Linked DNA regions of Homo sapiens. The protein of the gene in region 1 interacts with the protein of each later gene in a pairwise test. Each region holds a gene or a part of one and is shown on either strand. Other genes may lie near its edges.

Region 1 (3,500 bases):
TAGCTGGGGCAGCATGGGATCCCATCCCACCAACAAGGGCCCTCTCTATTGAGCATGTAGCTGTCCTGGTGCTCCACATGGGTGGTCCAATTTGAATTTTTACAACAGCATGTGAAGCCAGTGGTGTTACTGTCCTCATTACAGAGATGAAATACCTAGGAAACTAGGGCCTATGCCTTCCGCTTTATATAAGGTTTAACAAAAACAGGCCGGGCATGGTGGCTCACGCCTGTAATCCCAGCACTTTGGGAGGCGGATCCCCTGAGGTCAGGAGTTCGAGACCAGCCTGACCAACACGGTGAAACCCTGTCTCTACTAAAAAACAAAAATTAGCCATGCGTGGTGGCGTGCACCTGTAGTCTCAGCTGCTCAGGAGGCTGAGGTGGTAGAATTGCTTGAACCCAGGAGCCAGAGGTTGCAGTGAGCTGAGATTGTGCCATTGCACTGTAGCCTGGGCGACAGAGAGAGTCTCTGTCTCAAAAAAAAAAAAAAAAAAAAAAAAAAAAAAAAAAAATATATATATATATATATATATATATATAAATAAAAAAATTAACAAAAACAAAGCCCCAAAGAGGCCAAGGAAGTTTGTCCTCAGTTGCCGTGCTCTCTCTTGGGGTGGGATGTGACAATGGAATTGGAAATAGAACCTGGAAGTCCAAGGTCCCCAACTAGGAAATTGGCAGAGTTGTCATTAAAATCCAGGCCTTAGACTTGGATTGCTATGTCAGCCTATGTCTTCACTGCTAACACGACCTGTGTCTTTAATCCTCCACCCTGTACTCGAGGTCCAGGGAACCTCCTGGAGAACCTAGGGCTGGCTGCCTAGAATAGGCCCTTCTTGGCCAGGCGTGGTGGCTCATGCCTATAATCCTAGCACTTTGGGAGACTGAGGAGGGCAGATCACTTGAGGTCAGGAGTTCAAGACCAGCCTGGCCAACATGGTGAAACCCCATCTCTACTAAAAATACAAAAATTTGCCAGGCACACGCCTGTAATCCCGGCTACTTGGGAGGCTGAGGCAGAAGAATCACTTGAACCCAGGAGGCAGAGGTTGCAGTGAGCTGAGATCGTACCGCTGCACTCCAGCCTGGATGACAGAGTGAGACCCTGTTTCAAAAGAAAAAAAAAAAAAGCCCTTCTTCCCCTATAACTCAAAGTGCAAGAGCCTTTTTGTGACATCTCTCCTCCTATGGTGTGCCAGCCAAACCACGGTTTGCAACCTGGCTTCGTTCCCAACCCACAAGTCACTGGGGCTCTCTGTACTGAGTTTCCTCATCTACAAAAAGAAAATCAGCATCTCCCAGGAGAGTCAGTCTTCATGGCAGTTAACTGAGATTGCACCCATAAGGCCCTGGCATGCAGCCTGTGTAGTTCTCAATTGGAAGGCTCCTTATTTTTTTGTTTTTGTTTTTTTTTTTTTGAGATGGAGTCTCACTCTTGTCCGCCCAGGCTGGAGTGCAGTGGGCACGATCTCGGCTCACTGCAACCTCTGGCTCCTGGGTTCAGGCGACTCTCTTGCTTCAGCTTCCAGAGTAGCTGGGATCACAGGCATGTGCCACCACATCTGGCTAATTTTTGTATTTTCAGTAGAGATGGGGTTTCACCATGTTGGTCAGGCTGGTCTCGAACTCCTGACCAAAAGTGACCTACCCACCTTGGCCTCCCAAAGTGCTGGGATTACAGGCGTGAGCCACCACGCCCGGCCGGGGCCTTATTTTGGTCCAAAGCATTGAGCCTAGCAATGTGGCATAGAGGAAGGACCTCCCTTCAGTGGCCCCTGCCTGGGTCCCCCTGCTCAGGTCAAGATGCAAAAAGGTGAGCGCCAGATGGCCAAAAGGTTCCTGGAGGAACGGAAGGAAGAGCTGGAGGAGGTGGCCCACGAACTGGCTGAGACTGAGCACGAGAACACGGTGTTGAGGCACAACATCGAGCGCATGAAGGAGGAGAAGGACTTCACCATGTAAGGTGGCTCCTGCTCTGTCCCCGCTGATCTATTCCTCCCTACCAGGCTGCCTTGAGCCCTGGGCAATAATGGAAAGCAACGTAGGAGGTGGGCACAGGCACTGTGCCTGTGCCCTGGAGCCTGTTCAACAGTCACACAATTAATTACAGTTAATTACCTGGTTGTGCTTATGATTTGTACTATGAGGGAAAGGGAGGACCCCGTGGATTGTGGTGTGGGACTGGGTAGCAGGGAACTGTTTCTGGAACAAGTGATATTTAAGGGGTGTCCTGCAGGATGGTTAAGCATTCGGCAGGTGGGTGCTAGGGAAGAAAGCACGCTACTCAGTGGGAACATCTTATGCGAAGGCCCCAAGGTGGGAAAGTGTTTGTAGCTGAGAAATGGAAGGCAGGCCAGAGTGGGTGGGCAGAGGATAAGGGGGCCACATAGGTTGGCAGGGGGCTGGCTCTCAGCAGCCACTTTGAGGCATTTGCATTGAGGGCATTTGGAAGCCATGGAAAGGATTTATTTTATTTAATTAATTTATTTGGCCGGGCGTGGTGGCTCACGCCTGTAATCCCAGCCCTTTGGGAGCCAAGGCGGGCAAATCACAAGGTCAGGAGTTCGAGACCAGCCTGGCCAACATGGTGAAACCCTGTCTCTACTAAAAATACAAAAATTAAGCCGGGCGTCGCGGCGGGCGCCTATAATCCTAGCTACTCTGGAGGCTGAGGCAGGAGAACTGCTTGATCCTGGGAGGCATCTCAAAATTTTTGAGATGGAGTCTCGCTCTGTCATCCAGGCTGGAGTGCAGTGGCGTGATCCTGGCTCACTGCAATGTCCGCCTCCTTGACTAAAGTAATCCTCCTGCCTCAGCCTCCCAAGTAACTGGAATTACAGGTGCCCACTACCATGCCCGGCTAACTTTTGTATTTTTAGTAGAGATGGGGTTTTAGCTGTTGGCCAGGCTGCTCTCGATAACACCTGATCTCAAGTGATCTGCCCACCTCGGCTTCCCAAAGTGCTGGGATTACAGGCTTTAGCCACTGTATCCAGCCTACAGCCATGGAAGTTTTAAAAGCAGGGAGGTGGCCTGACTAGCCTTGGCTGCAGTGTAGAGAAGAGGTAGAAGGGCTCAAAATCGTATCTGAAGATGGTGCGTAGGAGGGCGTGACAGTGGAGGGGGGCAGTGCAGAGATGACAATGGTGGCTGTTTGAGAGAAACAGGGCCACAGGTAGCTAATGTCTCCTGGTGTGGAGGCCCTGGTCTGGTGCCCAGGCAGATGTAACTTCTGGCCCTGGTCCTTTCTGAAGGCCACCCAGGCCAGAAGGGCTGTCCCTGCCCCCTCCCCTACTTTTCCCTGACCAGAGGTGAGCCCCCTAGGGCATTGTGAGGCAAGCCTTGGATCTCTGGGCATGCGGGGGCCTGGGAGGGCTCACAGAGCCGTCTTTCTGGCCCCAGACTTCAGAAGAAACACCTACAACAGGAGAAGGAGTGCCTCATGTCCAAGCTGGTGGAGGCGGAAATGGATGGGGCTGCGGCTGCCAAGCAGGT
Region 2 (4,020 bases), on another chromosome or scaffold:
AGTGTCCCTTGTTCTTTCATAAATGTATTTTAACAAACTGAATAGCTGAATATCAATCAAGCATTCCTTTCTATCATGATTCTGAACAGACTGGGCTCAGGGATCTCTTGGAGACCATGATAAGTTATGGCTTCTGTTAGCCAGCAGGTGTGTGTGCTCACCCATTCAATTCTGAATACACTTCCGGGCTGTTCACAGAAACTTTACAGCCATCCTTGAACGCCTTACATGTCCACAAAGCCCAAGCTAAGAAGCTACGTCTTTCCAGTATCTCACTTTTAAAAATGAGAATTTTACAGTAGGATTAAAGCTTTCAGAAAAATACAGGTCAACTAAAATTTACCAAAAAACAGGTAAGTAAATCAGGAATTATTGCTTAGTGGATAGACACAGGACTTCTTCATCAAAAGTCCTAAGTCCAGATGGACAGAATATTCCCAAAGATGGGAAGGCTCCTTTAAAAGCCTTTGAAAGAAGGGGGCATAATATTAGTATTTCCCACTGGGGAATACCCCAGGGATATTTTCTCATGTGTAAAACATCAGAACTTGTGTATAAGTGATATTTATTGTTAATTTCCTTAAATGATCTCTCTTCTTCCTCACCTAACCAGTTGTCAATATTTGGGTTTCTGGGATGAAACTCTCTTTGAGCCCCATTTTCGTGGAAGAGAACTTCAAGCCTCAATAGGCCCAACTGCTTCCCCGATTGAAGACATCCCTCTCCTCATTGCACTGTCCCCTCTGCCCCTTCCCTATGCCCCTCAGCCTGCCAGGTCTAACTTATCATGAATTTTAAGTAAGTAAAGGAGAAAGTAAGTCAGATTTAACAATGTGATTAATTTGTCAGTTGAAAAAGATAGCATCTATTATTTTACAAATAATGTTCAAGAAGCTTGGCTTAAAACTAGAAAGAAGGGCCAGGTGTGGTGGTGCATGTCTGTAATCCCCGCACTTTGGAAGGCTGAGGTGGGAGGACTGTTTGAGGCCAGGAGTTCGAGACCAGCCTGGGCAACATGGTGAGACCTCCCAACTCTACAAAAAATCTTTTTGAAAAAATTAGCCAGGCATGGTGGTACGTGTCTGCAGTCCCAGCTACTGGGGAGGCCGAGGCAGGAGGATCACTTGTGTCCAGGAGTTCGAGGCTGCAGTGAAGCTGTGACAGCACCATTGCACTCTAGTCTGGGCAACAGAGGAAGACCATTCCTCTAAAAAAAAAAAAAAAGAAAGAAGGGGCCAGGCACGGTGGCTCACGCCTGTAATCCCAGCACTTTGGGAGGCCGAGGCAGGCGGATCAGGAGGTCAGGAGATCGAGATCATCCTAGCTAACACGGTGAAGCCCCAACTCTACTAAAAATACAAAAAATTAGCTGGGTGTGGTGGTGTGCGTCTGTAGTCCCAGCCACTTGGGAGGCTGAGGCAGGAGAATCGCTTGAACCCGGGAGGCAGAGGTTGCAGTAAGCCAAGATCATCCCATTGCACTCCAGCCTGGGTGACAAAGCAAGACTTAGTCTCAAAAAGAAAAAAAAAAAAAAAAGGAAAGAAGGAAAAGAAAGAAAGAAGACTTTTCATTGTGGTTTAGTATAGTCTTAGGCAGTTTGAAATGTATCTAGAAAAATAAGAGTGGTCAGTGAAGCCTGCAGACTTCCGTGTGGTGGGAGGTGCTGAGGAAGGGTGGAGGTTGGCAGAACTGTGGGAACAGGCGATGGAAATGGTTCTCCTAATATGGAGTTGACAAGATTTTTCTTCACCCAGTTTTCCTATCAACTATTCCATCATGTTTTTTTCCTACTGAATACTTTCTCCTTTTTTTGTACAAATTTATGTGGTGCATGAGAAATTTTGTTACACATATAAAATGCATAGTGATCAAGCCTCTATTTAGAATGTCCATCACCTCAGTACAATACGTTTTTATTTAGTCACCCTACTCTGCTATCAAACTCTGAATTTATTCCCACTATTGCATCTTTTGCTGCTTAATTCATCTGTGGTTAAGGGTTAACAAGGAAAACACATCCCCAAGGTAATTTACTTCCAGTTCTCTGTATCTGTCTAATTTAAATATATTCCTCTGCACCCTACGTCATTCTTTTGAAAGAAATTAGGCTACTGTGTTATTTGATGCTGAAATGCAATCTTTCAAGCTATTACCTGACATACAATTTCTAAATGCAGTTCAGAAAAGTCATCCATTTTACAATCTGTAAAAGAAACAAAACTTGGATTCTAAGTCCAAAGATATATGCCCTCTATGTAAATTTATCTTCACTCCCTCTACACATATTTTACACAAAGTCACAAGTGGTTTGTGCATTCAGTATGAACCCTGTGTATCTAAAAGGGGAAGAGCCAAGATTTCAGCTCCTGTCATTAGATAGTCCAAGAATTTAATATTATAAAAGATATTGGGACAGTGGAAACAAATAAATAAAACAGAAGTCTGTTTCTGTTTGTTTTCTCATCTGAGTCTGGAACCAGCCCTGTCCAAACCAGGCTCATTACCAAACCAGGCTCATGAGCAAAGGCAGTTCACTCTCAAACACCTCAGCTTCCTAGAATTACTCCAGGACAACAGCACAGTCCTGTTAGAAGCTGAATGTATGATTTCATCTCTTTGCCCATCACCGAGATTGTTTTCTAAAAGCAAGCTGTAAGCTCCTCCCCGAGAGAATTACTTTTCGCTCACCGAATCTCATTACCTTTCTTTAATAGACATGGTTTTGCTGGGTGAGTCAAGAAGGCCCTCCCCTGTCGGCGTTTTGATCTCTCCAGCAGCAAACATCGCACATGGATTCTTGCAGAGCTTCTCCTGTGGCTGTTCCGAAGAATCCTGGGGCTTCCAGGACACGGGGGCTGTGGTTTGAGCAATAGTTTTCCCAGCAGCTGTCCCCGTCTGCTCGGAAGTGGGCTCCCCGAACTCTGCCGCTGGGAAGGAAAAGAGCAACATCAGCACTGAACTCCTCAGGCAAACATTCTTCCAGCGATTCGCCCTCAACAGTGCAGCTCTCAGGGTTCAATCCGTGGGCACACGGCGGGTGACCCAATCCACTGGGATTTATGCAAATCTGCAGCACGCTACACTCTGTGAGAAAACCAAACTTCCTGGAGGGTTACCCACACAGCAAAATGCTTCGTGGCAATTGGTTTCTCTCCTGTGTGCGAGACACAGGAAGTCAGCTTTAACTATTTACTCCAGAATGGTTCTATTCTCCAAAATAATACCTTAACATTCAAATGTGCTATACTCACAAACGCAAACCCCTATTATAACTTACACTGTACTGTTTCATACAAACGTAGAAAGAGGATGAAGGGCCCACGCAGTGTAGCTTGCTAGCCTGCAAAACAGGCATGCAGGAAGAAGCACTCTAGCGATTCAGAGACTGGGGTCAAGTCTTTCCTGAATTCCTTGTGCTTACCCAGCCTGGACCTTTGGGGTCATCAATTTCTAAAAGGGGCCACCAGAACTAAGCAGCTCAGAAGGCCATTGTGTGAGTGACCAAAGTCAACAGAAACTCCATGAAGATGTGTGAAAGCTCTTCCAGTAGTTTTATTGCTGAAAACTTGATGTATCCTCTAGTCAGATCCAGGGAAGAATAGGATTCCCGCTGAACTTTTAACCAATACTAGCTGTAAACTGCCTATAGAACTTTGTTAAAAGCCATCATAGACACAGGACAAATCAAGCAGAAACTAAAACCCAGTGGCTTTCTAAAGCTTTAGGGGCACTGGTCACTTACCTCTTAGTGAAAACTTCCTTTTCATAACATTCTCCACCTCCACCTTCTCTTCAAAGGGCAGCCTGTCCCTCAAGTCCAAGTTTCCTTGTGCATTCATTTTAGCCATGGAAAATTCCTTCGGTTCATCCCCGAGGTGGGTGATGGGAGGGTTCGCCCGTTCCAGGCTTCCTCTTCTGGGAACAGCATATTTAGATTCCTTATGGCTGTCTCCTTCCCTGGCTCGGTTCAGGATGGGGTAGGATGCTTCTGCTTCCTCAAAGGACCCATACTTCTCCATC

Evidence for each region.
Region 2: the proteins of ODF2 (region 1) and SVIL interact in a two-hybrid assay, tested with the Homo sapiens proteins (one study listed by BioGRID).

The regions. Positions count from the first base shown.
Region 1 is NC_000009.12:128,469,506-128,473,005, forward strand, and holds part of ODF2 (outer dense fiber protein 2), read left to right. Parts: intron 1-1,802; coding exon 1,803-1,963; intron 1,964-3,407; coding exon 3,408-3,500. UniProt on the Homo sapiens protein: Seems to be a major component of sperm tail outer dense fibers (ODF).
Region 2 is NC_000010.11:29,519,709-29,523,728, forward strand, and holds part of SVIL (supervillin), read right to left. Parts: coding exon 3,743-4,020; intron 2,928-3,742; coding exon 2,702-2,927; intron 1-2,701.